Regions from separate parts of the Homo sapiens genome. Here region 2 is linked to region 1. The links come from fine-mapping of genetic effects on gene expression. A gene starts in region 1. The other region holds a variant in brackets. All regions are shown on one strand. Distances are from middle to middle. Region 1 holds the start of MAGI2-AS3 (MAGI2 antisense RNA 3). Region 2 has its middle 25 kb from the start of GNAI1.

What was found. PIP is the estimated chance that this variant, and not a neighbour inherited with it, causes the effect.
Region 2: its variant is the best candidate, but not a certain one, in a credible set for the expression of MAGI2-AS3 in cerebellar hemisphere (GTEx, PIP 0.58).

The regions. Positions count from the first base shown.
Region 1 is chr7:79,445,240-79,461,153 of GRCh38, forward strand. MAGI2-AS3 (MAGI2 antisense RNA 3) reads left to right here and starts at 7,718. Exons shown (of 4, transcript NR_038346.1): 1 at 7,718-7,952; 2 at 8,348-8,416; 3 at 13,608-13,760. It overlaps MAGI2 (membrane associated guanylate kinase, WW and PDZ domain containing 2), which reads right to left and starts at 8,428. Exons shown (of 22, transcript NM_012301.4): 1 at 7,781-8,428. The coding sequence starts at 8,081. RefSeq lists an enhancer at 6,874-7,168.
Region 2 is chr7:80,101,709-80,117,622 of GRCh38, forward strand. No RefSeq gene overlaps it. Among named protein-coding and RNA genes, the nearest start is that of GNAI1, 25 kb to the right of the region's middle. The variant T/G (reference allele first, on the strand shown) is at 9,085.

The sequences.
Region 1 (15,914 bases):
AGGACATAGGCAGGGGCAAGGACTTCATGTCTAAAACACCAAAAGCAATGGCAACAAAATCCAAAATTGACAAATGGGATCTAATTAAACTAAAGAGCTTCTGCACAGCAAAAGAAACTACCATCAGAGTGAATAGGCAACCTACAGAATGGGAGAAAATTTTTGCAGTCTATCCATCTGACAAAGGGCTAATATCCAGAATCTACAGTGAACTCAAACAAATTTACAAGAAAAAAACAAACAACCCCATTAAAAAGTGGGCAAAGGATATGAACAGACACTTCTCAAAAGATGACATTTATGAAACCAAAAGACACATGAAAAAATGCTCATCATCACTGGCCATCAGAGAAGTGCAAATCAAAACCACAATGAGATACCATCTCACACCAGTTAGAATGGCAACCATTAAAAAGTCAGGAAACAACAGGCGCTGGAGAGGATGTGGAGAAACAGGAACACTTTTACACTGTTGGTGGGACTGTAAACTAGTTCAACCATTGTGGAAGTCAGTGTGGCAATTCCTCAGGGATCTAGAACTAGAAATACCATTTGGCCCAGCCATCCAATTACTGGGTATATACCCAAAGGATTATAAGTCATGCTTCTATAAAGACACATGCCCACATATGTTTATTGTGGCACTATTCACAATAGCAAGGACTTGGAACCAAGCCAAATGTCCAACAATGATAGACTGGATTAAGAAAATGTGGCACATATACACCATGGAATACTATGCAGCCACAAAAAAGGATGAGTTCATGTCCTTTGTAGGGACATGGGTGAAGCTGGAAACCGTCATTCTCAGCAAATTATCACAAGGACAAAATACCAAACACCGCATGTTCTCACTCATAGGTGGGACCTGAACAATGAGAACACATGGACACAGGAAGGGGAACATCACACACCTGGGCCTGTTGTGCAGTGGGAGGAGGGGGGAGGGATAGCATTAGCAGATATACCTAATGTTAAATGACAAGTTAATGGGTGTAGCACACCAGCATAGCACATGTATACATATGTAACTAACCTGCACGTTGAGCACGTGTACCCCGAAATTTAAAGTACAATTAAAAAAAGAAGAAAATTCAACATAGACAAAATCTCTCTTTGCACTATAAAGGTTTATTTTTTTCTTCTGTAACATATCTGTGTTTGGGTATATCCAATGATATATCCAAAGTATAGCAAGTATTTAGGCTCAAACTGCCATGGTTTTGACAGTGATTTTTTTTTTAAAGTAAGCCAAAATAAATAAAAATGGCATAAAACCTCATAAGGATTCATGTAACGATTACATGGAGAAATTATTTCCCCAGGTAGAGCAAGCCATCTAATTATTTCAAATATTGAAACAAATCTAGCCATTCATATAAATCACCCACTCATTAGCCTAATGGATCTTTGAAAGTATATCAATGGGGGTTGGGCGCAGTGGCTCACACCTGTAATCCCAGCCCTTTGGGAGACCGAAGCAGGTGGATCACGAGGTCAGGAGATCAAGACCATCCTGGCTAACACGGTGAAACCCCATATCTACTAAAAATACAAAAACATTAACCGGGCGTGGATGGCGGGCACCTGTAGTCCCAGCTACTCAGGAGGCTGAGGCAGGAGAATGGCGTGAACCCGGGAGGCGGAGATTGCAGTGAGCTGAGATCACGCCACTGCACTCCAGCCTGGACGACAGAGCGAGACTCCGTCTCAAAAAAAAATAATAAATAAGTGAAAAAATAAAAGTACATCAATGGGATGCAATTGAGTTAATATTCAATAACTTATCAAAGAAGGAAACTTTTATTGTTTCTTCCAGACCACTCAAAACAGTCAACAATATATATTAAACTTAACACAAATTTTAACTTTTTTAAAAATATCTCAATATGAAGTCCTTTTAGAGTTGACAAAGATGTCAGTAAGACGTAATAATAAAAGCAATTTTTATTAATTATCTATGATGATATGGACATTGTACTATGTATGTCCCTATGCAAGTCTTTAACAATGTAAATTCAGCAATTATTATATTACTAAGTTTTCTATATAAGATAATTTACTTTTATTAAAGGAAATATAACAAATACTTACTAGAGACAGAAGAGAGCTGAGAATAGAATGGAGTAAGTAATAATAAAGTCACTAAACTAAGGCAGTTGTATGTTTGTTGTCATAATATATAGCCAGATTATAGCTAGGAGAGATTTTTAGAAATTAATACTGAACCCTGGAGCTTCAAGGTAGATGTTTCCATTGAACTGTAAAATAGGATTAATTCAACGAAAATGCTAAAATTATGGGGAAGCTAGCAGTGGAAGTATTGTTGGTTGCTTCACCTTGTAACAGTATTAATACACAGACTTACTTATATTGCATTTCTTTCATACAAAGTATGAAAATACTATAAAATAGTATTTTAATAGTACTATAGTACGTTAATAGTATTTAAATAGTATTTAAATTTAATGGTATTTTAACAGTACCATAAAATACTATAAAATAGTATAGTATAAAATACTATAAAATGCAATACAAATAGCCTTTTAACTTATTTACATTGCAATACTCACAAATGCAAAGTATTATTTTTGCTGAATTTGATGCATTTCCTCTTTATTATACATTGTTGACTGTGAACACTTAAGAGTTAACTTTTATTATTGTTATTCTTTATGAGGTGCTTAATTTCTAGCTGAGAAGTAAAAGTTCAACAGCATGATACTTACTCTTAACTACAATGATGTATTAATATAAGAAGTATAAACTCCTAAACTTAATAAATTCTAATAGGATTTCTATGTTGTCAAGTTTAGAGTAAATAATTCAATATATTCAGCAATTCTTTGGGAGTAAAGATATGCGGTATGAAGAAAACAAATTACTATGTAAAAATAAACTATGTCTAAAGTATAAAATAAATATAAAATAGCAGATGTTTACACATAAAGGGAGGATCAGTGGAAGTTATTTTTAAAAAGTGAAAATATTTTCCATTGTATTTATTGATATTATTCTTCAAATAAATTCTTTTCAAATAAAATATTTATTTCATTCTGCAAAAAAACCTTAAAATACAACTTGCAAAATACTCTATATTAATGTCAATCATTTCATATTTTTCAGTTAATTTGAATTGAGTAAAATATCTTGAAAATTAAAAACACCTCATAATGTCACTAGCTCAAAATGACCAATATGTTTGCAATAGCATTTACTAAAATCTACATAATGCTTATCACCTGCCAGACACTACACACTTTAAATACATAACTTATCTAATATTCTTAAGGTGCCATTACTACCCCAGGTTAGTTATCTTGTACATATAGCTAGCACTAACTGACATACTCAGGAATTAAAACTAGGTGGTCTACTTAGGAGACTGTACCTTTAACCATTGCTCTACCCCACCTTCTGAGGAAAATGATTCTGCCAGGGTCTGTATGTATTTGAAAGTCATTAATTAAACTATAATCAATCAGAGATGTCAAATGTGAATATGCTTTTCTCATTATGAAAGTGAATTTGTGAGTTACAAGCAATGAAAAGGAAAGTGAGCATAATAAACATGCCAAAAGATTAAACAGTGTAAATGTTAAGAATAGGGACAGTACAGATAAAAAGCAAATAATCATATTTAACATTCGAGGTCATACCATTTAAATTATCTACATGTACCAGAAAACTACAGTGGTATCACTTATAAATTATGCCCCAAGAGAACCGTCTCATTAACCTTGTTCAAAACATTAATGGTACTTTATTTCTAAAATAATAAACTGATCAAAATGTTTAAACAATGTTTTGTTTATTAAACAACACTATTCATATACCTCACATTTCTACAGAAAAAAAGTCAATCTTTATTTTCAGAAAATTTGACATAATTTGTTTTTACCTTTTCAGATACAAAGGAGTATAGAGATCTGACTCTATTATTCTAAGCCTGAAGTCAGTCAAGAAGAAAGTATGACTCTTAATAAATGTGGATCTACTTTCCTTTGAAGGTATCTTTGAAAGGAGCAGTAGGAGGGAGAGCAATGTAGATCTTCTCTAAAACTGAATTTCAAAGGATTTATTTGGCCCATCTTCCACATGGGAAGAATTAGAATTTTTTTTTTTTTTTGCCTTTTATTTCCCATTGTGAGACCCTAAATGGGAAAATAAGTCCAGGTTATGTAGGTCTCTATGTGGTATTAGATGCAATAGCAGCCATAGTGCAAGGAATGTAGGCCACAAAGGCCTGTGTAACTGGCTGCTGTGAACTTTAGTGGCAAACCTTAAAAAAGGGAAAAGAAAAAGGAAAGAAGACCTTTAGCACTTCCATATAGATCTCAACATCACTCAAAAAACTTTCTTCAACTGGGTCTGATGCATTAACGAGATCATAGAATTACTGCTAATTTAGAATTACATACTTTGGTGAGGAAAGTTTATTATTACAAATAAAATGCCATAGTTTATAAAAAAGAATTGGATGTGACAATAAGCCATATTTTAATATGTGGTTTATTATTGTGTGGATTAAAAGCAGAAAGCTTAAATTAAAAAGATAATTCCTTGAATTTCATTAAACAGTTTTAAAAATTGTTTTGCAGGTATTTAAACAGTGTAGAAACACTGTGAGATATATACATATATATATATATATATATAATGTCTTAAAATCCCAACATTTTAAAAGGAGCTCACCTCCTTTTAAAATTATGACAGATGAAAATTATGATAACTGTAATGTAAAATTAGGCAAACAAGTAAATAAAATTAAGTAAATAATGCAATTTTACCTGGTGCACTTATTAACAATATTCTTATTATTCAAATCTTACCTTTTCTTTATAAAATCTTCCTTAAACTATGATAATTCTTGTAGTTTCTGTATAATACCCAATGTCTGAATGAATATTCAAAAATCAGTCTCATTAATGTTTTAAAAACGCAACTGCTAAACAAACCATGTTTAAGTTTTTCAGCTATGCTAGCTTTTGCATCTCTTGAAACATAACTACTGGGCCAAGAGTTTCTAAATGATTTTCCAGTAAATGACATCTGTATTGAAACCTAAGACACACAGGCACTATAGTAAAGGTTCTGAAAAATTTCATTTTTTATAATCATAAATAAAATTAATCTATGATTTGACGAGGAAAAGAATTATTAGAATAGCAACATGAATCATATTTAAAAGAATATACAAGAGAATTAATTATTCCACAAAAGGTAAAAGAAATATTTTGTTTTGTTTTGTTTTTGGTCAGCAGTGGTTCAGGAGATGAACCAACTGTGGGCTCTCTGGCTATCATTATACAAATTTATCATCAATGAACCAGTGAAGCACGAAACTGAGGGTTAATATAGAATGAAAAGAGACTTTCCCCTCAATATATCACTTTAGAAGCATATATTCTGAGTTCTAAAAGCAATAATCTTCCACATAAAATTCAATACAAGAGTGATCTCCAACCACATTAGATCAAATTATGGCAAGATTCAAATAATATCTAATCCAGGTCCTCATCTTATATAGGAATCCCTGGCATATGGTCATTTCAGCCTCTTCATGGATACCCACAATGATGGGAACTTCAGCCAACAGGGTGCTCACAAATTTTTGGAAAACTCTGTTAGAAAGCTCATGATTTAATGAAAGTAAAGCTGCTTCATCCTTTCAAATTTCTCATAGATTTATCACCATTTTGTCCTGTGGGCTATCACAGGATAGTCAGAATTCCTTTTCTTACCTGATAGCTTTTCGCTATTTAATGATAGCTTTCATTCTTTCACTTCTCCACGTTAAGTCTTTCCACGGCATTTCATAGAATACATCTATAATACACAATAATCTTCCTTTATTTCTCTTTTGAACTTACTCTTTGCTAGCGTGACAGTTTGCCAACGTCCGCCTCAACAAGGAGTGCTCAGAATTGAACACAACATTTAAGATGTGATGATCATTGCAAACTATAATAGGGCATCCGTTTGTGGGACTCTATTAAGTCCAATTTAACAACGCTTAACTTTTGCAGCCACGTTCCATGACAAATATCAAGCATTTGGCCAACAAAACCATGGTCATTAGTTGTGTAGTAGACTTTTCGTACCCAAAGATCTTTCCATTTATGTCTATTCCTATAAGGTGGTATTTTGACATCGAACATGTTAACATGAATCTCTGTATTTGAACCTTAGGTATCTTATCTTCAAAAATATCAAGTTACTCTATTTTCCTTCCTACCAAACTCATATCCCTTCAGTGTTAAATAGTATGGAGCTATGTTGACTTATAATAACCTATCTCAATTTATTACCTCTTAATACTCAAGAATACCCAAGGAAAACATTTTCTTGTATGGCAATTTACATTTAAGAAACCTTGCCCAGTACTTCTTTTTATCTTGTTTATTTTAAAACAAGTTTTTTAGAGAATAATTTAACAGTGCGGTACATCTCCGTAAAAGCATTTCTTAGTAGTTGATCATGATTAAGCGGCAAAATGCAGGTAATGACATGCTCAATTCCACCTTTGAGTCAGGACAAACAGTGTACATCGACGACAACAACAAACCCTTATGCTAATATGCCTGTGACGCAAATATCCATACATACCGCACACGAATTGTGCAGTGAGCTAAAAAAGAAAACAGAAAAGAAAAAAGCTACTACTTTATTCTACTTAAAGTTGTCCTCTATTCAAACTTTTATCTCACTCTTCTCTCCTTCTGCACCATAATTTTCTTTCGAGCAAAGACAGGGAGTTCTGGATGATTCCAATCTCCCCAAATCCACATCACAGCCTCCAATTGAGGTTCATTTAAGTCAGGTTGGAGCTGAGGGAGCCTGGGCTGGAACCGGCCAGGGTTTCATCCAGCTCCTCCCCCAAAACACGCCCCCCAAATCGGAGCCAGAGGAGAGCCCAACCACAGAGGACTTCCACTCAATGAGGGCAACCCCTGAGTAAAGTCCATGCGGACAACCATTCATCTCCTCCGACAACCATTCATCTCCTCCGACCCCCGCCCAGCACTAGACTGCGCTCCTAGCACCGCGCCTTCTTCCGGAGCCTCCTCCCCCGGGCTGGCTAGGGGTGAGCGCAGGGGTTAGTCAGTACGCACGTGACGCGCGATGCCCACATGACACGACCGTGAGCGGGGGAGGGGGACACGGAGTGAAGAAGGGGAAAAGTTACAGAAGACCCGTCAAAGCGCCCAAAGCAATTTGTCCCTTCTTTTCTTCGCCAGCGGTGGCTCACGGATCCCTAAGGGACAGCTGGGGACCCAGGCGCCCCCAGCCCAGCCCCAGAAACGCTGGACGCAGTTCTCCGCTCACCCCACCACCTTCTCTTCCCAGACCCGCTGGTGATGCCGCTGCACCCTGAAGTTGCTCCTTCCTTCTTTCCCTCCCTTCCTCCCATTCTTTCTTTCTTTTCTTCCTTCCTCCCTTCCCCAAAAGCTCTTCATCCGCTTCGGGTGATGCCACTGACGCACATTCAATTTGCCCCAGCAGCTCTGAGGAGGTCAGACCAGGCCGAGCACCTTCCAAAGGGGAGGGTCTAACTGAGCAAACAAAGTTGCACGCCACACCACAACCTGCCCCTCCCCTCCCTTTAGCCCCCAAGTCGAATCCCCGGCGAAACTCACTTGCACTGCGGGTGCTCTCTGGCCCCCACCCCATCATCGCGCAACACACCCCCTTCAACATGCGCGGCCACCCTTTCATTGCCCTGCGCCCCGAGCGGTCCCACCGCCCGGCAAAACACTGAGCAAGCCGCTGCTCTCACCTTGCTTGACACACTTGAGCCGGAGGGGGTCCTTGCAGTGTTTGATCACGGCCAGCACGTCCCTGATGGTGAGCCCCGCCACGGGGGTCTCGTTCACCTCCAGCAGCAGCTCCTCCGACACCAATTTGCTGCCGCTCTCATAGGCCACCTTGCCGGGCTTCACCTCCCCCAGGTAGGGGAACTGTCCATTCTCGGCGCCCCCCTTCAGTTCAAAGCCCAGCTGGCCCTCCGGGTTCCTGCCAATGACACTCTCATGGACTTTGCTAGTCCAGTGGCTTTTCTTTTTCAAGCTTTTGGACATGGCAGTGGGGCGAGTCGCCTCAGTTCCTGGGCTCCTTGGGGTTAGGGGGGCTGGTGGTGAGAGAATGAGGATGGAGGAGCAAGGGGGCCCAGGGGGAAGAACAGCAGACTTTGCCTTCGCCCCCCTCTATTCGGTGCTTTCCCTCTTCTTTGGATGGAGTGTGGACGAGGAATGGGGAGGATGAGAGGGACGGCTGGGCAGAGGTAGGAGAGCTTGGATGAGGTTGTGCTGTCCCTTGAATGACACTCAAGGCTGTGGCCCCGCAGCAGAGGAAGCAGTGGTGGTGGCGTCGGCGGCGGCGGCGGCGGCAGCCGGAGCGAGCAGTAGCCGAGCTGGTGAGCGGGTGTGGTGGGGGTGGGGAAGGAGGGTAGGGATGCCGGGGGCCACTCCTGCGTGGTGCGAGTGGGAACGCGCGCGCGCGCCTGGGTGTGTGTTGTTAGCTGATATCCATGGCAGCTGCAGTGGCAGGGTGCGTGTGCGTGTGTGTGTGTGTGTGTGTGTGTACTAGTTCTACTGTACTGGCAGACGGGAGGAGGCAGGGGAGGAGGGGCGCGCGCGCCGGGTGGGGAGCCACGGAGGGCTTCGCCGCTGCCTCCCTCCCTCCCTCCGCAGCTTGACCCGGTAGTGAAGGCAGAGAGAGAGGCAGGCTGGGTCCGCCTGGCAGCCTACGGGAGGAGGCGGGAGCCGGGAAGGAGGGGAGCCTAGGCCCGGCGTGGGGAGGCCGGCAGGAAGGGCCTCGAGCCCAGTGCGGACCTTTCTTCAGCCTCTGTGCGACCGAGCCGCGCGCCAGGCTCCTGTGCGAGGAGGACGCGCTGACTCCCTCCGACCTGGGCTCCGATGGAGCAGAAATAGCGGGACCTGGACTTGTGGCGCGCCTGGTGCCACATCTCGGGCTCTGCGAGCGTCCTGGCGCGGGATCCTGCCGTGAGAAGGAGTTGGGGCGGGGGACCCGGCGGGGCATTGCGGGAGAAGGCCTGGGATCCCTGGGAGCCTTGTAGCGTGGGGGAGTTCACTGTGTAGAGAGGTTTCATGTCTTCATCTATATAGTCACTTATTTGTCTTAAAGTTCTCGAAATTCCCTCTTAGAGAAGGAGAAAGTTAGAGAACTGGAGGCTGCGTACCCTGATTACGCAGAAGGGAAGCAGCCTCGCATTCCCCGGGGCAGGCCCCCGCCCGCGCGTCCCGCCAGTAGGGGAATTTAGCGGACGGCTGCGGTTGTCTGGTGAAAGGCTATCCAAGGATAAGGGGCTTCACTTTTCCCAAGTAGGGGAAAGAGAAGGGGTCTACAGGGCTAGGGGTGGAGGGAGCGGATGCAGTGAGCAGCCTCCGCAGAGAAATTGACAATTTAACCAGGGACCTGCGGCAGAGACAAGGCGGAGACACTCCCTTGCCCAGGAAAGCCGCCAGAGTCCGGCTTGTACCTGGGGAAGAATCCTTAAGACGGTCTGGCCCAACACTCCTTTGCTCACAGAGAAAGGGGAGAAGACTCCCGAGGGTGAAAATGGTACATTCGGAGCTGGAACTCAGCTCGCTGACCCCAAGCAGTGTTCCCTTCTTTTCGCCAGGTTTGCATCCAAGAGAGGGGAGGACAGGGGCAAAAGGATGCAGGGAGGCTGCTGATTTCCACTGAAGAGCTAATTTCCTGTGAGACATTAACAGTGATTTAAGAAAAAGATTCCTGTAACTGGTAAATGAATTTCATTTGCTTAACTTTTAGATGATATGTTTCAGGCAAAAAAAAAGTTGTGCACCCACTTATCTCTTTAAAGCGGAGGATGAAAAGCATTGAATAGGTAGGATTCTTAATGTCTGAGATGAAGGCGATGTAGGAGGCAAACAATACGGTTAAAAATGTTGAGTCGACCCAAACAGAAAGACCAGGTTTCAATCCAGACTCTGCGGCTTACTGAGAATATGATCTTGAGTAAACTGCTTGACCTTCCTGAGCCTCAGCTTTCTTAGTTGTTAAATGGACTTTAACAATACTAATCTGTTAGGACTGTGGTGAGGATGAAATCAGGGAAATCAGTCACAGCAGTGCTCTCCTGGCACAGGTGAGTAGGAGTTCGAAATGATAATTCCCTCCTCTTTCCCTCTTAGGTATAACTTACTACTTGGGGATGAGGGGGATCAAATGTAGTCAGAACTGGAAGAGATCTTAAAAAAAGATGATTTGTTTAACCTTGTGTCTTTTTTTCACTTGAGAAAACAGATCCTCCGTAAGTTGGCTGCACTAGTTGAAGCTTATTCAGTGAGCCAGGGGCAGTGCCAGGATCTGAAGCCAGAGCTGCAGGCAATGCCCAGGAGTAGGCAAGACTTGATAGCAAAGCCTAATCTCACCCAGAGAAGTTGAGTGTTAGCATTATGAGGCATAGTTCTAAATGGAAACTCATCATGAGAACCGAATATATACATATTGTAAAACCAAATGACAAGCTACCATTCATGGAATATACTAATATTTATTAGGTTCTAACTACATGCAAGATGTTGTTTTATAGGCTTTACACATAATACTTAATTTCTCCTGACATTTTGATAAAATAGGTACTGTTATCTCCTTTTACAGGTAAGGAAACTGAGGTATACAAGGATGAACTTTTGCAAGGCTACAAATCTTGTTAATAGTGAAGCTAACGTTCAGACCCAAGTGGTTCGGCTCTAGACTTTGTCTCAGTTACTGAATTGAACTCTCTGTGCACTTACGATGTGTCATACCAGTTCTCACTACATAGTGTCCCAAAAGATTGGGCCTGCTCTTTCTTTCAGAGACAATTAGGAAAAAAGTAAACAAACGGAGCAGGATTTGGGCATAACAGCATGCTCCTCCCATCCCCCAAATCCCAGGAGTGTCACTGAGGTCAGTGCCAGTTAACTTAGTGCTCTTCAACTTCACAGCTACCCTTCTTTGCCCTAAATTGTGACATTAGAGCTGAAATCTGTAAACGTCTTTATGGTCAGTTGGCACAGTGTTTAGCTTTGTCAATAGAAGGTGCTAGGGGAACACTGCAGAAAGAAAGGGGCTCCTTTTCTTGGTTCCAGTGCTTTCCTGCTTGCTCCTACGGTGTGGTGGCCAGTGAGTGACTTTCTGACCAGTGGTGTGCAAGAAGGCCATGTTACATAATCTTCAGTAAATTTGGCCAGTTCCCTAGTATGTGTCTTTCTATGGAGTACCACTGGCATGTCAGTGGAATGGCTTCCTAGCAAGTTTTACTGAAAACACAGCTGATGGTTTCCTCAGCAGCCCAGTGTGTGACACCTTAAATTTCTGGATCATTAAGTGGACCACAGCCATATTATTTCCAATGAGCGCCTACTTTCAGGCTTAGTAGGGTGGAGGGTGGGTAGGGGGAAGTTCTACTCAGTTATTCCCTCCTTGGGTACTCTCCTAGAGCCTGAGAGATAGTGGCTGTTCCCAATAACCACTATTACTGTATTCTTTAGTGGGATTTTTTCCTGTCCTAATAGTCAATACCCTTTGACTGGATCTTAACTGATAAAAGTGGAACCCTGAGGAAAGCACTATCCTTGGAGTCAGAAATTGGGATCAGATTTTTTTTCTTTCTCTTATGGTATTCCTCATATTCGCTTAATTTCTCCACTGCCTTTACCCTTTTTGGATTTGATGCTATGTCAAGAAAAAATTATTTCATCACTGAGCACTCTGAGTGTAGAGCAGAGTGCTAAATATTGCATGCTATTCCAGAAGAAAAATAGTTTAGGAATCCTAAAAGCCAAAGAAAGAAAGATATGAATGCATTCAGTTCTTAGAAGAGTTCTATGAGATAGATGCTTGTGGCAGACATAGTCTCCACCCAGATCTCCTAGGATCCCTTTGGTTGAATCTGAGTATCCTTCCTCTAGCTTCTGTGTTCTTTTACTTCTCACAGCCTGCCCCGAGAATCTCTTTGGAGGAAGGCCCAAACACTACTAGACTCACTTTGTGTACTGGCATAGAGAGCCAGACAGAACCACCTGCAAGTTTACTTCTTTCCCAGGATACCCTTTGCCAAGGACTTTCCTATAGAGTATAAAAGACCAGCCGTCTTGCCTCTAGTAGCAAGAAAACCTGAGGTGTAATTTACACCCTGAGGCTCCCCTATAGAATTATATTGATGTTAATATTTTGCCTGAAACCACCTTCTTCCCTATCTTGCTTACTGTGGTACCTGATGAGTTTTTCTTGGTAGCATTTCTATAATAAATCACTTGCAGACAATCTTCATCTCAGGGTTTGATCCTGGGGATCCTGACTTAAGACATTGCTATTCTTTTTTTTTTTTCTTTTACAGATGAGGAAACTGAGGATCAGGGCTTTTAAATTGCCCCAAATCACACTACTAATAAGAGATAGAGTTGTGGTACCTTTTTTAGAGGGACCATTATTCTGCTGACTGCAGTACTGTAGAGCATAAAGTTTCTTATCCACACTGTTTCTTAGTTCAGTCTGTCAATATCACTACTCCACGATTATTGTTGTTTGTTTTTCTTTCTCCCTGTCTTTTACCTCAAAAATCTCTATTGTGATGCCAGAGAGACCTTTCTGAAACCTCTCCTTTTTTCTGTGTTTAAAACCCCCCAGTGCCGCCCATGAAATACACAGCAAAGTCCAAACTCCTTATCTTGCTTGGATCCTCCTTTCCACCCTTTTTAACTGTTCAGCCATATTTCTCCATGTACTTCTGAGATTGGAACCCAGGGCAACAAAGCTAATGTGGGTTCTCCAAGATTAACACAACTGAAAGGAGGCCCCTTTATGCCATCTATTCTAGGTCCCTTGGAATATAATTAAAAACAGGAATTTCAACATTGAAATGTAATGATGTTCAGGTAAGGGCAGTAAGGTACATTGACTTGAGTCAATCTCCCACCATGTCTGGGGACTGGGACAGCTGAGCCAGGGGTCCTACCTAAGGGTCAGGCCTGTGTCTTCACTTCTCCTTTCAACCCTTTACTTCTTCCAGAGTTGAACGGCTTACTTTCCTTCTCTCACTAGGCCATTTCATGGCTTGTGTTTGCCTGAAATACAACTCTTTCCCTCCCTGGTCTACACCTGCTCACCCTGAAAGAAATACCTCTGAGCCCACTTTCTTTCTTGGAAGCATTTTATGACTCTTATTTCTGTTATCAACACAGCTTTTATTTATGTCTCCATGTATCCTTTGAAGAAACACAACTTTTCAGGTTCTATGTTTTATTTGCATTCTTAGTGTCTGGCACATTGTCTGACACAGTGTAAAAGCTGAGTAGAATTTTGCCTGATAGCAGATGTGCCTGAAGTGAGGGTGTCCAAAATTTCATTAAATGACGACTGCTTTAATATGAATTCTTGGCTAAGGCAGGAGAATCGCTTGAACCCAGGAGGCAGAGGTTGCAGTGAGCCGAGATCACACCACTGCACTCCAGCCTGGTGAGAGAGGGAGACTGCATTCTCAAAAAAAAAAAAAAAAAAAAAAAAAAAAAAAAAAAAGAATATATATGAATTCTTACTGATAGTATTAAATGATTATCTCTTTACATTCACAGTAATGTCTTACAATAACAGAATGCAGGAGAGCACATATCAATGAAGAAAAGACAAAATGTACTTATCCATGAAGCTGAGGTTAAGAAACCAGTGTCTTCAAGAGCCAGGGACAGCACTGGGTCTGTGCAGAGTTGAGAGATGGTGATGACATGGTGAGACACAAATTCAGTCTATTTCATAGTTTGTGGTCATTCCTATTAATAAACTTCCTTTCACAACTGTTTCAATATTCACACAAAAATGTTAACCCAATCTGCAGTTGTACCCCTTGAATGTAAAATAAAAAACAAAAGCCCACAAAAATAGGAATCCACACTTAAAAGGTGGATTTATTTAGCACAGTATGGAGTTTCTTAGACTTCTCTATCACTGTCTCTAACAATGACATACTCACCTAACCCCACTAAGAGCAACTTTATTTCATCTCTAGTTTTCGTCTAAAGATTCATGTGGATTTTAGATTCTACTCTTTTGTAGGTTCGTATTTGTACTATTATAAAATGTGACTCTCTCTCCAAACTTTGCCTAAATTATGGAATGATTTTTCATGTTTATCCAGTGGTTTCCAGCATTCTTGGCCCAGTCTGGGATTCTACTCTTTTGTAGGTTCGTATTTGTACTATTATAAAATGTGACTCTCTCTCCAAACTTTGCCTAAATTACGGAATGATTTTTCATGTTTATGCAGTGGTTTCCAGCATTCCTCACCCAGTCCAGGGACACTGTGGGTGTGCCCAGCTTAAGTCCAGTAACTGGAAATACAAGCCCAAGTTCTGGAGAGTTTGAGCTGCAGAGATATATATGGGAACACTTTGAATCTTGACTCATTGGCCATAACCAGCAGAGTGGAAAATACAAGAAGAGAAAAAAACATTGAACTGCGATTTTATAACATCCTTTACTAGGCAGAGAGAAGAGGAAACACCAGGAAAGAAAACTGTATTACGATGTGAAAACTTAATGTTGAGAAATTCAGGCATCTTGGGGTTAGTGAGGAGAAGTTTTAGGGGCTTAGATTCTTCTAAACACATGTACAGAAATGCATATTTCATCTGATATCAAATGGCATTTATAGTGCTAATCTTTACCTCAAGACTTCACATCTTTTGGTGATTGCATCTTTTAGGTTTATAGCAGCTAAGTTTGCATGAAAACACCAGGGCTGTTTCATTTCAGTCAAGAATTAATGTTCATTGATTGTGCTTCTGCATTTCATGTAACTATTGTAGAATTTGTTTTAGTTTTATGAGGGAATAATTGTTCCAACTTCTATATAACTCAGGAATTTACTCTCAAACAACACTGTCAATTAGTTACTTATCTCTCTGGAAATGATCTGGGAACATGGAGAGGAAAGGGAGGAAGGGGCAAAATCTGACCACTTAAATCTAAGCATATTAGATCATTTTATGCTAGAAAGTCCTGAATGATGTGACTTTCGTTCTTGTAAAACACCTCTTTCCATAGATTCATGGCCCAAACAGTATATAAAGAGTGGGGAAGGAACTGCATTTGCAAATAGTTCAAATCATTGCTCCATCTTAACTACGCAGTTCACAAAGTGTGAAGAAATGTGATCATCTCAAAAAAGATAATGGGGAAAAAATATGTTTTGTTCTGTGACTTTAAAGTCTTGCAATATTTTACATAAATGATAATGGGTGCTTTAATAAGAACTCTTGATACTTTTGTTATTGTATTCAATATATGCATATAATACAACAGGATGATATTGTTTTGGATTTGGAAATGTATTCTTTCTTATGCAATCTTATGCAGTCATACTGCTTGAATATCATTACCTGAATTTATCTTTCTTTTTTTTGTTGTTGTTTTACACTCTACTTATTTGGTGCCTGTCAGTCTTTTGTCGTCAGTTTATATTCTACTAAACTCAAAAAGACAATCTCATACCTTTTGTAATTGTAGGCATTCTTTACTAGATTTTTAAATACACTTCAAAAATTCAAGTACTTTGATTTCATGCCATCAAGTAGCTGAATCTATCCCCCCGTCTCTTTTTAAATTTAAGTGAGTAGTTCAATTTCTGTCACTTTCTACTTTGTGAATTCTAAATCTTTTAAAACCATCTTGCCATTTTTCGTGCACTTACCCTTACAGAAAACTCTGTGAAACACTACTTATCTCTACTTTTATGTTTTTAACTCCTTTTTTATATTACTATTCCCTCTGCTTTCTAAATGCACATATTAATTTGTTCTTTTTATTCTCTGTAGCTCTTCTCAGTGTATGAATTCAGTTTCCCATCAGTCTCCATACAATTAAAAAAAAGTTGAGTATTCTGT
Region 2 (15,914 bases), 660 kb after region 1:
TACTTTAATGGTGTTTAGTATATTCACATATATGCACAACCGTCACCACAGTCAATTTTAGAGCATTTTCATCACCTCAAAAAGAAACCCCATATTCTTTAGCTATCACCACTATAAACCCCTATCATCTGGCACCCAACTGTAAGTGAGCACTATACTATTTTCTGTCACCATAGCTTTTCCTATTTTGGACTTTCATATAAATAGAATATGTTTTTATGTGGACTTTTGGACTGGCTTCTTTCACTTAGCACAATGTTTTCAAGGTTAATCCAAGTTGTAGCATATGTCATACTTCATTTATTTTTATAGCCAAATGATATTTCATTTTATAAGCATACCACATTTTATGTATCCTTTCATCCACTGACACATTTTGGCTACTGTGAATAATGCTGCTATAAACATTCATGTACAAAGGTGGGCATGGTGGCTTACACCTGAAACCCCAGCACTTTGGGAGGCTGAGGCAAGAAGGTTGCTTGAGCCCAGGAGTCCTAGACCAGCCTGGACAACATATTAAAAACATGACTCTACAAAAAATAAAAAGAAATTAGTGGGGTGCGGTGGTGTGCACCTGTAGTCACAGCTACTCTAGAAGCTAAGCTGGGAAGACTGCTTGCGTCCACCTTTTTGAGACAGGAACTCACTCTGTCACCCAGGCTGCAGTGAGCCAAAATCGTACCGCTGCACTCCAGCCTGAGTGACAGAGTGAGTCCCTGTCTCAAACAAACAAATAAAAATTTATGTATAACTTTTTATGTGGACATGTTTTCATTTCTCTTGCATATATACCTAGAAATGGAATTACTGGTAATTCTGTTTAATTATTAGAGGAAATGCCAGACAGTTTTCTAATGTGACTGGACAATTTTGCATGCCTATCAGTAATTTATGAGAGTTCCAATTTCTCTACATTCTCACCGACACTTGTTATTATCTGACTTTTTAAACGTAGTCATCCTAGTTGGGTGTGAAGTGGCATCTTCCGGTTGTTTTGATTTGCATTTTTCTGATAACTAATGAGGTTGAGCATCTTTTCATTTGCTTTTTGGCTGTTTGTATGTCTTCCTTGGAGAAATGTGTATTCAGGTACTTTAGCCATTTCTTAGTTTGTTTATTTGTCTTTTATTATTAAGTTGTAAGAGTGCTTTAAATATTCTAGATAAAAGTCCCTTATCATGTATATAATTTGCATATATTTTCTCCTATTCTGTAGTGTGTTTCTTTAAATTCTTGATAGTGTTCTTTGAAGCATAAAGCTTATTGAAGTCCAGTTTGCAATTTTTTCTTTTGTTGCTCATACTTTTGGTGTCATATTGAAAAATCCAAGGTCATGAGACTTACTGTTTTGTTTTCTTCTAAGAGTTTAAACTTTTACATTTAAGTCTTTGATATATAATATCTTGAATTTATTTTTGCATATGGTATGAAGTGAATGTCCAACTTCATTCTTTTGCCTATGACCATCTGGTTGTCCCAGCACCATTTGTTGAAAAGAATATTTTTCCCCATTGAATGGTCTTGTCACTCTTGTCAAAACTTATTGACCATGGGTATATAGATTTATTTCTGGTCTCTCAATTATATTCCATTAGTCTATATGTCTATTCTTGTGCCAGCACACTGTTTAATTACCATTGCTTTGCAGCGAGTTTTGAAATTGGAAAATGTGAATCTGCTTACTTTGCTCTTCATTTTTTAAAATTATTTTGGCTATTCTGGGTTTCTTGCAATTTCATATGAAATTTAGAATCAGCTTGTCAATTTCTGCAAAAAGTTTGTTGTTATTCTGTTAAGAATTGCATTGATTCTGTAGATAAGTTTGGGAAGTACTGCTATCTTAACAATACTGCTATCTTAATAAATAATTGCTATCTTAACAATAAATAATAATGAATAACAAACATTCATTGTCATCTTTATTATATATCCAAATAATACATAATCCAATAATCCAAACAATAAGTAAACCTTGCAACCCATAAGTTTAGGTTTTTTAAAATTTCTTTCAACTCTATTTCATAGTTTTCAAAATATACATTTAGCACTTCTGTTATTTATTTCTAAGAATTTTATTTTTTTGATACTAGAGTAAGTGGAATTATTTTCTCAATTTCATTTGCAGGTGGTTAATTGCTAGTATATAGAAATAAAATAGATCTTTTTATATTAATCTTGTATACTACAACCTTGTTTATTATTTGCTCTTGTAAACGTGTAATAGTTTTTAGTGGGCTTTTTAGTATTTACTATATATATACAACATCATGTCATCTGCAAAGAGAACTAGTTTTACTTCTTCTTTTCCAGTGTGGATGCTTTTCTTTTTCTTGCCTACTTGCCATGGCTTGACTCTCTAGTGCAATACTGCCTAAAAGTGGTGAGAGCAGACATCCTTTCTTGTTATTTTGCATGGTGTTGACTGTGAGATTTTTGTAGCTGCCCTTTATCAGGTTTAGGAAATTGTCTCTATCAAGAATACTTGACTGGAGCTCTCCATTCTTCTGATCCACTGTGGACAGGTTGCTCTCTAGGAAAGCCACACAGCAGTTGTCCTGGAATTTCCCTTTATTGTCATCCTTAAAATTTTACTGATATTTTTCTAGAATTGATCATTTTTGCTGAATACTACCTCTGTCTTTCTTAATTTACTTCCTTATTTGTTCAAGTATATCCTCCAATAGCTTCCCATGAATTAGTAACTGACATATATTTCTGCATTTCTAAAAATGACTTTAATTTATTCTCATCATTGATTGATAATTTGGCTATCAAATTATTCATCAAATATCATTTTCATCAATAATTTTGAAGACATTGCTCCAAGGTCTTCTATCTTTCATTATAGCTTTTGAGAAGGCTAATGCAATTTGGATTTCCTGTCTCTTGTAGGTGACCTTTGTTATTTTCTCTAGAAGCTTTTTCTTCTTGATGCTCGTTATTTTGAAATGTCACATTTTATGTGATTTGTGAGGTCTGCCTTTATTTTTTTATGGGCCACTTGTGCTGGACACCTACAATTTGGAGATTCATGTCTTTCTAAAAATTGTTTTTTACAGTTCTTGATAGTTAATCTATTTTGTTTTTTCTTTTCTCTATATATTTTATATAAAATAGTTGCTGAACCTCACGAATTTTTCCTTTCTTTTCTATGTTTACTATTTTCACATTTTGTGTGTGTCTGTGTGTGTGTGTGTGTGTGTGTGTGTGTGTGTGTGTGTTAAGTTTTGGTCCTTGGCTTTATCTTTCAGTCCTTTTATAATGTTATTTATTTCTATCATAGTTTTATTCTCTTTTCTTTCCTTTCCATAGCATCCTACTCTTGTAATATCTCATTGAGAATATTAGATTATTTTCAAATTTTAAAAACTATTTCCTGTATTGTCAGTTTCCAATGGGTATCTTTGTTTTTGTATTTGTTATGGTAGCTCTTTTTTATTACTTTATTGTTTTAATATTGTTTTAGTGAGGTTTGCAGAGGCAGAAAAATACTGTGTGATCAGTCATTTTTTTAAAAAAAAATATACTGGGTTAAATAGTATCCCCATATAATACATGTCTCCTGAGAACCCATGAATGTGGCCTTATTTGGAAATTGCAGAGGTAATCAACTTAAAATGAGTTCATACTGGAGTAGAGTGAGCTCTGAATCTAATATGACTGGTGCCATTATAAAAAGAAGGTAGGCCAGGCACAGTGGCTCATGCCTGCAATCCCTTTGGGAGGCCAAGGCAGGTAGACCACTTGAGCCCAGGAGTTTGAGACTAGCCTGAGCAACATAGGGAGACCTTGTCTCTACTACAAAAAAAAAATCGGCCAGGCCTGGGCATGGTGGCATGCATCTATAGTCTCAGCTACTCAGGAGGCTGCGACAGGAGGACTGCTTCAGCCCAGGAGGTTGAGGCTACAGTAAGCTGTATCATGCCACTGCACTCCAGAGCCTATGTGGCAGAGCAAGACAAAGACAAAGAAGAAGAAGAGGAGGAAGAGGAAGAGGAAGGTGGCAAAGAGGAGGGATATTGGAACACAGAGATAGATACACACACAGGAGAAATGGAAGGAATGTGAAGACAGAGGCAGAGGTTGGAGTGATACGTCAACAAGCCTAGGAACACCGAAGGTTGACGGCAATCACCAGAAGCTAGAAGAGATAAGGAAGGATCCTGCCCTAGAGCCTCAGAGGAAACATGGCCCTGCTGTCATCTTGATTTCAGGCTCCTGTCCCCAAGAACTGTGAGAAAATAACTTCCTGTCATTATAAGTTACCTGGTTTTTGTACTTTGTTAAGGCAATCTTAGGAAACAAATATCCTCTTCCTCATTAAAGTTGGATGTAGAATTTAGCAGGAACAGAAATATTAACTTGCTTTTTTAAAAAATGTCTCAGATTAGTTCCTTTTAAACCTTCCTTTTTTGAGAAAGAGAAAACTGACACAATCCAGAGTCTAGCACCTCTTCCCTATAATCATTACCAATGTTGTAAAAGTTTGGCTGCCTCTCCCTGTTCAGTGGTTTCTCCTGGCCTGTTCAGTTCAAGCAACACTAGCAGTATTTTCCACCCAATGACATGTGAGTAGAATAAAACAGTTCTTCCTATGGTGATAATTGAAAATAAAATTATAGTTTTATATATTTAACTAATTAGAAGTTTAGCTAATGACTGCTTTTCATATATAATTTTAGGGTCTGGGCAGTTTGACGGCTTTTTTTTCTAAATCAGATTGGCATTCATTTTTCTTTTATGTCTAAGAATTTGTTCAGCTCTGCTACTAATTTTACTTAAATATTTTTGTTTCAAGACTAGTGAGAGATAGAAGGAGATGTAGGAAACGAAAAAGAAAGCCAAAAAAAGAAAGTTTAAGAAGGAAATACTCAACTGTCTAGCAAATGCCACATAATCCAAGTTAAATATTACCTAGAAACTGTTTTATGTGGAGGGAGTTAATGTCATCTTTGGTGTCTTAAATACTGTCAGAGGCCAAATTGCAGCAGGCTCATGATTGCATTGGAAGTGAAGAAATGGATATGTTTAGAGTGCTCTACCCTTTCAAGAAGTTTTGTTTCAAAAGGAAGGAAACAGGGGCAGTTATAATACTTTCAGAACAGAAGTGACTAAGAGTGCTTACACTCAGAAAACAAAGGGTCTGAAAGAGCCAGTGGAGCTGAGGAAGTTGAAAATATAGGACAAAAGGAAAGATAGAGATGAGATAAAGAGATGGAGTGATAGCAATAAAGAGTTAGAGAGCTGATAGAGAGAAAGGAAGAGGGGAGAGAGAAAATTGGTAGAGAGATTATCTTGAGCAGGAGGGTGTACAAATATCCAGAGAACAACATTGATTAGCATCAGTTTTGGACATAAGCACAGCCCCTGAGACTAGAAAGAGAAATAACTGATGTGGACGCAGCTTTGTTTTCATGGAGTTAAGTGAGGAGGGACAGGAAATTGAGAACTCTTGACTTTCTGTGGAATTAGAAGGCAAAATCATGTGCTGAGTGCATTTATAGAAAGAAACTAAATAAGCTAAAATCATTATTTTACCTTGAAGTCAAGGTAGCAATAAAATGACAAAATAAGCAAGTGCTCTAAGAGCTCTCTTTAAAACAACATGGAAAGAGAATCATTGAGTAACATCGAGTGTCCTAAACACATGGCTTCTTAGTAGGCCATTAACAGAATTTATGGATTTCACACAGCCCATCCATCTTCTATTTTTAGTTCATTTACAAAACAATAAATGACAGGTACAGACTGTGGTTTCAGATGCTAAGAGACTGGTAAGTTCTGCTATTTTATCTCTGAAGGCTGTAAGTATCCTGTTTTGGTTGGAAAAAAAAATAGTGCTTCCTCTAAAAGACATCCATTGAGGATGTGGCTTTTTGAGGTACAGTTTTGCTTTTATTTGCCTAAGTGCTTGCTCTTCAGAGTGTAAGAAAAAGCTGCATGGAAATTATATTTGACTTCATCTGGTCACACTGTCTTATTCCAGAAAAAAATTAGTACAAGAAGTATGTAGCTCCTGTAGATAAAAGTTCCTGATATAAATTTCTAAATTCAGTAAAATACAGATAAGTTACTTACTGAAGTATTTTATATCAAACTGCTTATTTAGAAAAGAAAGTGCTTTCATCACCTAAGCATATAATTTATTCAATCGTCTCAATTAAAGGAATGCATTCATAATTGAACATGGCACAAATGTTTGCTAGAATACTAAGAGACACGCAGAATAAGACTCTTGTTTACAAAAAATAAAATGTATAGAGACATTTGTAAAACACAAACATTCCAGGAAGAATTGAAAAAGTATTTTTATAAGTATTGCTGTTTCTATTTATCCTTGCTTTTGCTATGTATATAAGTGTATTCTAGACAAAAAGGGAGAGTAATGGCATAGGTACAATTTTTGTATTCAGCTTAGGCACATAGCTACTTGTAGCTGGCTCCATTTCCAAGTGAAATCATACAGTAATTGGTATGAGCCAATCCAAACTTGGATAAAAACTCTGTCTATTTCTAGCAAGTTAATCAATCCTACCATTATGCTGAACCACTTTGTGATGCTTTTCTTCCTGTCCATTGGGTTACTGTGAAAAAGCAAAGTTGCATTAAATGTGGTATCTGTCTTCTTGGCTTTTACTTTTTCTGCCAATGATTATTTCTGAATGGATTTTAGTTTTGCAAATTATAGCACAATGTCAGGGTCAAGAATGATAAGATGAAAAATATAGAATTATGGAAATGATCCTAGCAACACACAAAAACTTTTATTGTACGTATGCAAATGAGACTGCTTTAACTTAAAAATCAAATAGAAATTGAGCATTCTGATTACCATAGAAATAGAAGAACTGAGTTATTTAAGTGCCCATTTTCTTAAAATAGCAGGGTAATATCAAGGCATTTTGATGTTTGTTGGGAGCTGGAAGAAGCAGTATGTGGGCTGAAAGACCTTATATACTTCATTCAACATATTAATTGATAATAAAACATTACTTTCATGATATTTTATAATTTTCATTTTATACTAGATTGTTTTTCTTTAAAAATAGAAAATACAACAAGTTATTTTTAAACTGTTACATAATAGAAAATTTCTTTTAAGTATCCAATAATTAAACCAAGTGGAAAGTAACAAATATTTATAGTAATAAATCGTTTGTAACCATACAAGAGTACATACACATTGGACATCAATGTTATTGTTCATGAATTCTTGACTACTTTCCATATTTAAAAATATTTTCACAAACGTGGTATGCAAACTGAGTTTAGCGTTCACAGCCAAGAAAACTAGATAAGCCATAAATGTATCACTTATGTTAACACAGTTGTACATACCTAAATACCTGATAATAACGCACATCAAGTGATTAACTTACTGGTTTGTAATAATTTGGGTATACTCTGTTTTTAAAACAGAAAGCTCATTTTGATGGTCCTACATTCCTAGGCAATGCTGGGCCCACAGATTACCCCTGAGAGCACATCAATATATATTACCAAGGATACTTATCAAAATTTGTATGTTTTTGATACATTCATAAAACATTCCAAATTATTAGCATTTTGGTTTGTCTTCTAGAGCCTTCTTATTCAAATGCATCCCTGAATCAGCAGTATCCACGACTCCTGGGAGCTTGTCAGAAATACAGACTCTCAGGCCCCACCTCAGCCTTGCTGAATTGTGATTTACATTTTAACAAGATCCCCAGCCCAGGTGATTTGTGTGCACATTAAGAGTTTGAGCAGAGATGCTCAAGGAATTAAAAACCTAGTATATTGGAAGTTTTAAAGGTTTTCAGGTGGCGTAGGAAATAAATAAATTCCAAAGAAAGGCAGCCCAAATCATATTCAACTTTTTCACATCTTAAATTCTCTTTAGAATCTATATGTTGCAATTTGGCCATTGAGTGAGTCAGTTAAACGAACAGGCACAGTTCAGGATTTTGTAGAAATAAGAGACTTTATTATAAAGTACTGTAGTTTGGAAAATTTTTTTGAAAATAGAAAAAGATATGAAAGGATGATTAGCAATATGTTTTCTGGTTAATTTCTTCAGCATTTTAAATCACAGTTTCAATAATATTCAATCTGTCACTGAATCAAAGGCAAAAATCCCTAAATAATGAAGTGATTAAGCACTCCATTCACTTTCATTGCATTAATTGAAAATATTTCCAAAGCTAAAGAAGTTGTAATGCAATGGAAAGTACACAGGACTTGGTCCTATTTCAAAAATTGTCTAAATGTATGTTCTGGAAGTTTTCCCACCATCAGGTATTGCGTTCTGTATAAACATTTTTTGAATAAATGAATTAGTGAGAAATCAGAGACAAAGGCTATTCTTTCTAGAATGTACTGTAACAGGAAAAGATAGAAGGCAATATTCCAAAGGAATATGTATTCAAAATATTTTTGACTGTTTATTAATCCAGAGAGCCCATTTGTTATTTTAAAATAAGAATTGCATTATCGGCCGGGCACGGTGGCTCACGTCTGTAACCCCAGTACTTTGGGAGGCCGAGGTGCGTGGATCACCTGAGGTCAGGAGTTTGAGACCAGCCTGGCCAACATGGTGAAACCCTGTCTCTACTAAAAATACGAAAATTTGCAGGGCATGGTGACAGGCGCCTGTAATCCCAGCTACTCGGGAGGCTGAGGCAGGAGAATCGCTTGAACCTGGAAGGTGGGGGTTTCAGTGAGCCGAGATCGTGCCATTGCACTCCAGCCTGGGGAACAAGAGGAAGATTTTGTCTCAAAAAAAAAAAAAAAAAAAAAAGAATTGCGTTATCAAGAAGAAAGGATACTCATGTTTGCTAATCAGCACATTCTCTTCCTGGGGAAAATATGTGTCAGAAGCAATGTTATAATCAGAAAGTTACTGTGAACCCAAAACATTAGATGGATGATTATAATGGCTACTGCCATCATGCCTGAAAAACTGATAAATAGCTTTTTGCCTTAAGATTACACTAAACCCACAGAATAGATGCTTGTCTTTGCGAGTTCAGGGCACCTCTTCATGTGGTCAGTTATAGAGATATTTTGTTACTATTTGCCCTTCTGATTCTTGTTTCTTTC[T/G]TTTGGAAAAAACTGCTTGGAATGAAAGCAAGAACGGATTAAAGGAGGCCAATTAGGAGCCAATTGCGTGTGTGTCTGTGTGTGTGCATGTGTGTGCATACAAGTGACCTCAAGTAAAATTTGGCTTGGACAATCTTCATTTACTCCTGTTTAGCATTTGTCCAGGATTTTTTATTTTTATCAAAGTATTTGTATCAATATTTGCATTAAAATAATCAGAGATGAGTTAGATCTACTCTTTGTATTCCCAGCTTGTCAGTTGGTCAGGCGCATGGTTATATATTTAAAACAATATGCAATAGCTACCTTTTCTAGAGCCTTTCCATATTTAGTAAAACTAACATCTCCCTTTCAAACAGCATATAGTATGCTCACTGAGAAAACCAAGTACATTTGGAAGTGAGTGGCTAAGACAGTCAACTCTTTGCAGTTTCAGGTGGTGATGGGAGAAGTTTTGAAGCCGCAGCCTCTGCCAGACACTTGGTAAACTAGCCAGCTCTGTCATGGCAAATACCACAGACTGGACAATGCACGAAATTACCAGTCAACAGTCAGCAGGGTCAACAGGAAATACGGCAAATGAAAGGTTAGCTATATATGATATTTCTACTGTATAATGTAGAGAATATAATCTCTTGGTACAGTAATTTGGTCATTTATTGTAAGTCTATAAATATTTATTTTATTGTTTGGTAAAGCTTTTTTAGTTTGCAATAGATTTTGGTAGCAATGAACTGAAAACATGAAAAGCAAGTGCTATAGTTTGGATATTTGACTCTCCAAACCTCATGTGGAAAGTTGATCCACAATAATGGAAGTGAGGCCTAGTGAAAGATGTTTGGGTCTTGAGGGCAGATCCCTTATGAATGGCTTGGTGCACTCGTCATTGTAGTAAATGAGTTCTCACTCTATTAGTTCCCAGGAAAGCTGGTTGTTAAAATAAGCCTGGCACCTCCCTGCCCCTGCTTCCTCTCTTGCCATGGGATCGCTAGACAGCAGCACCGCTCTGCCTTCCACTGAGTGTAAGCCGTCTGAGGCTCTCACCAGAAGCAGATGCTGGCACCAGGCTTCTTGTACAGCCTGCAGAACTAGGAGCCAAATAAACCTCTTTTCTTTATAAATTACATAGCCTTGAGTATTCCTTTATAGCAACACAAATGGTCTAAGACAACATGTATAATAAAAAATTTAGTACTGGTTGCCTGTAGTTCCAGCTACTCAGGAGGCTGAAGCAGGAGGATCACTTGAACTCCCAGGAGTTCAAGGCTGCTGTGAGCTACGCTTAAGCCATTTCACACCAGCCTGGGCAACAGAGCAAAAAAAAAAAAAAAAAAAAAAAAAAAAAAAAAAAAAAAAAAAAAAATCGTACTGAATATCCATTTCCATTTTTAAAACAAGTGAATAATATAAATTTGCACAAAAAAAGTTTATCCATGATTACTATTCACCATAGGGACCACAGTAAAGTCAGTAGTCACTAGAAAACCAGAAAACACAAATCTCTGAGAAACCATCAATATCTATTCAAAAGCCAATCACTGGCTGGGTGCGGTGGCTCACGCCTGTAATCCCAGCACTTTGGGAGGCTGAAGCGGGCGGATCACGAGGTCAGGAGATCGAGATCATCCTGGCTCACACGGTGAAACCCTGTCTCTACTAAAAATACAAGATAATTAGCCGAGCCTGGTGGAGGGCGCCTGTAGTCCCAGCTACTCGGGAGGCTGAGGCAGGAGAATGGCATGATCCCTGGAGGCAGAGCTTGCAGTGAGCCGAGATTGTGCCACTGCACTCCAGCCTGGGTAACAGAGCGAGACTCGGTCCCAAAAAAAAAAAAAAAAAAAAAGTCAATCATTATTTTAAGAATGTTTCCAAAGACAACAATTTAATACCTGCAGCTGCTACATTCCATTTTGAAAAGCATGAGTTTTCATTTAAAACAAATGAGTGTTCTTCTAAATAATTTATTTTCAATCCCAATTTTTTTTTTTTTTTTTTTTTTTTTTTTTTTTTTTGAGACGGAGTCTCGCTCTGTCGCCCAGGTCGGACTGCGGACTGCAGTGGCGCAATCTCGGCTCACTGCAAGCTCCGCTTCCCGGGTTCACGCCATTCTCCTGCCTCAGCCTCCCGAGTAGCTGGGACTACAGGCGCCCGCCACCGCGCCCGGCTAATTTTTTGTATTTTTAGTAGAGACGGGGTTTCACCTTGTTAGCCAGGATGGTCTCGATCTCCTGACCTCATGATCCACCCGCCTCGGCCTCCCAAAGTGCTGGGATTACAGGCGTGAGCCACCGCGCCCGGCCCAATCCCAATTTTTATGCACATATGAAAAGTGAAGAAAATAGCTCCAATGCCAGTTTTATATAAGTGTAATTATATGCTTCAAATAAGAAATTTTGTTAGTTGAATCCAATAATGCTTCAGAATATTTTCCCACCCAATTCATGGAATCAAAATCAAATCAATAAAAAATTTTAGAGAAGGTGAGCATCTGTCATTTACAACATTACATCAATGTAAAATCAGTTTAAAAGTTCAACATTTAAGGTACATTTAGATACATTAAGACACAGTTTTTAAAGGTTCATTTTTACAGTGAAATTATGAATACAAATTTTGGTGGAGTCAGGATTATGGTAAACACAATGTTGCAGCTAAGAAATCTATCGTATCAATTGGCCATGCCACATTAACAATAATGCTCCCTAATAAATCACCCCCAAATTCAACAGTTTAAAACATTTATCTTCATGGCTACGTGATGGCCAGCTAATATCTGAATCAATAATCAAGAGTGAGATGATGGTATATCAGAGGAGGGCAGGAGTGAGGCCTTGGGTGGTAATGAGAAGTAACTGAATTTAAATATATGACAGTGAGAGGTGAAGCCAGCTGAGCTTCTGGGCCGTGGGGACTTTGAGAACTTTTGTGCCTAGCTAAAGGATTGTAAATGTATCAATCAGCGCTGTGTGTCTAGCTAAAGGATTGTAAATGCACCAATCAGCACTCTGTTAAATGGATCAATCAGCGCTCCGTAAAATGGAACCATCAGCAGGATGTGGGCAGGGCCAAATAAGGGAATAAAAGCTGGCCACCCGAGCCACCAGTGGCAACCTGCTTGGGTCCCCTTCCACACAGTGGAGGCTTTGTTCTTTCGCTCTTCACAATAAATCTTGTTGCTGCTCACTCTTTGGGTCCGCACTACTTTATGAGCTGTAACACTCACTGCGAGGGTCTGCGGCTTCATTCCTGAAGTCAGCGAGGCCACGAACACACCGGGAGGAACAAACAACTCCGAACGAGCCACCTTTAAGAGCTGTAACACTCACTGCTAAGGTCTGCGGCTTCACTCCTGAACCCACCGGAAGGAATAAACTCTGGACACATCTGAACATCTGAAGGAACAAACTCCAGACTCATCATCTTTAAGAGCTGCAAAACTCACCACGAGAGTCTGCGGCTTCATTCTTGGAGACCAAGAACCCACCGGAAGGAATAAATTCTGGACACAATAGGCTTTGCATCAGACTGTAGCAGCTGAATCCATTGATCTGAGCTCCATTCAGCTGACATAATAGTTCATGTGTTTCTCATTCTTCTCCTGGTACCAGTGGGCTAGATCAGGACATGTTCTTCTCATGGTGATAGCAAAAGCTTAAGAGGGCAAGCACAATTACCGAAGATCTCTTCAAGCCTGGGCTCAGAAATATTAATAGCACACTATCAAATCTGTCTATATGCCACTGGCCAAAATAAATCAAAGGATGGGAAAGTACAATCTGCTTAGGATGCCAAGGGTATGGATACAAAGAAGGATGCAAAGACTTGGGCTAATGTAGTTTGATCTAGAAACCCTTCTGGCAACAATGAGCTCAAAAACAGACATATGCTGTATTTGGAAGTGGTTCTGGTAGACACATAATTAATTGCAAACTGAAAAAGTACAATATTCTATAATCAACATAGAGAATGTAGGTGTCAAAATTTACACATTTTTATATGTGTACAGAGTAGGTAAACTACAAAATTTTTGTGATAAAGTTGATCTTAAATAAGTTATAACACACTTCAGCATAGCAATACATGCTTTTTTTTCTCTTTGCTGCTCATCATCAATAGGATTTTAAGAAATGTTTGCTACTTGGAAAAATTAGTTTGCAAAACAACCTAAAAGGCTTACAGTGAACTGAACTTCTTTAAAAAAACACAAAGCCTCTAAATTTTGGTTCATTTTGTTCAAACTTAAGTTTGGAAATCTTTAATCAAAATGTTCTGCAAATAGAGCAATAAAAAAACTGCAGCTTTTCAGGCTTATAGAAAAGTAAAATGGAAAACAATGCTTAACACAGAAAGGCATTAAAATATATCTACATAACCAAGGTAATGACTGAATAAATTAAGAAATGAGAGCTCAAATGATGTACATAATTTTGGAATACTATAATTTTACTTTGAAATACTTAAATTTGTGGGATGAACTTTTTGGTGTAGGTCTTTTAACAAATTAATTTATAATTTCTACTAAAATTGAATAAAACACCTATAGATTTAAACTTGGTGAAATACACAAAAGAATAAAAAAGAGACACTTATGTGACAAGTTATTTTCTTTTGTTTTATTTTTTCTTTTATTTGGAACGGAGTCTCTCTCTGTCACACAGCCTGGAGTGCTGTGGCGCAATCTCGGCTCACTGCAACCTCCACCTCCCTGGTTCATGCCATTCTCCTGCCTCAGCCTCCTGAGTAGCTGGGAGTACAGGCGCCTGCCACCACGCCTGGCTAATTTTTTGTATTTTTAGTAGAAACTGGGTTTCACCGTGTTAGCCAGGATGGTCTCAATCTCCTGATCTCGTGATCCGCCCGCCTCAGCCTCCCAAAGTGCTGGGATTACAGGCGTGAGCCACCATGCCTGGCCATTTTAACAAGTTATTTTCTTATGAAATACATATGAAAGAAAGGTTTTTAAAATGCAGACAATAAGATAAAGCCTGTTAAAAATATCTAGGTTGAAATATTTGTACATTTGAACACCAAAAAATAAAATAAAATAAACAATAACCTCCGTTTAGCAAAATTTGCTCAGGTCTTACTGGGCATCTTACATCTGTAAAGAGAATATTTGTTGTTTTTTGTTTGTTTGTTTGCTTGGTTTTTGTTTTTGAGACAGAGTCACGTTCTGTCGCCCAAACTGGAATGCAGTGGCGAGATCTCCACTCACTGCAACCTCCGCCTTCCAAGTTCAAGACATTCTCCTGCTTCAGCCTCCCAAGTAGCTTGGATTACAGGCCCCCGTCACCACGCCCAGCTAATTTTTTGTATTTTTAGTAGAAACGGGGTTTCCCCATGTTGGCCAGGGTGGTCTCAAACTCCTGACCTCAGGATATCTGCCCACCTCAGCCTCCCAAAGTGCTGGGATTACAGCCATGAGCCACCATGCCTGACCAAGAGAATATTTGTTTAACTCAAAATATAATGGTCCACATAGAAAATCAACCTAAATTTTCAAAAATTCCAAATTTATTAGCCATAAGATACAACTTTGAAGAAGATTGCACGTAATTTTATGAAAACTGAAAATAATTAAACAGTATTAAAAAATAAATTATTAAGAAAAATTTCAGTGGCATTATATATAGACATGGATAACAAACTGCTTAAAGAACATGAATAGTGGGCCAGGCATGGTGGCTCATGCCTGTAATACTAGCACTTTGGGAGGCTGAGGCTGGTGGATCACTTGAGGTCAGGAGTTCAAGAATAGCCTGGCCAACATGGTGAAAACACATCTCTACTAAAAATACAAAAATTAGCTGGGCATGGTGGCGAGCGCCTGTAATCCCAGATACTCGAGAGGCTGAGGCAGGAAAATCACTTGAACCTGGGAGGTGGAGGTTGCAGTGAGCCAAGATCATGCCATTGCACTCCAGCCTGGGCGACAAGAACAAAACTCTGTCTCAAAAAAAAAAAAAAAAAAAAAAGAATAAATAATATGAACAGTTTTCAAGAATAATTATTCTGCTTATATTTTTAACATTAATATAATCTATAAAATCGATATTAAAACTTTTGCTTTATGAACATGGACATATGCCACTTTTTATTTTTAGAAATTATTTTACAGTTTCAGCATAAAAATAATTGTTTTTAAAGAGATAAATATTTAAAAATATGTAATTTTAGAGGGGGCCTCTTTCATTCTCATAAATTTCCTAGATTGAGATTTAAATAAATGGTCAAACCTATATTTCAGCAGTCTAGGCATAACGTAATATAGCAAAAACTACACAGATGATAGTTGTCAGAAATGTGGATAGAGTTTAATTATTTTTAAGTAAAATCAATAGGATATGAAGTAGACAATGCTAGGTTTTATAAGTTGATGTGTGGAACTAGTTGTTTAGTAGAAGGTGTTGACCCTCATGGGATGAAAATTTAAAAGGCGGCAAAAAGAGGTACAGTTTGGCCAGAAACCAGTTTTCAGGTGGAGAGATTCAAGAGACATTGATACATAGGTCTGAAGCCTACAGAAGTCTTGGCTATTGATATAAATTGAAGGTACAGCTTCTTCTAAATAATGTGAGGGTTAATATTGAGTGTCAACTTAATTGGATTAAAGGATGGAAAGTATTGTTCCTGGGTGTGTCTGTGAGGGTGTTGCCAAAGGAGATTAACATTTGACTCAGTGGAATGGGACAGGCAGACCTACCCTCATTTTGGATGGGCGCCATTTAATCAGCTGCCAGCATAAAAGCAGGCATGAAAGGAGCAGACTTGCTGAGTCTTCTGGCCTCTGTTTTTCTCCTGTGCTGGATGCTTCTCGCCCTCAAACATCA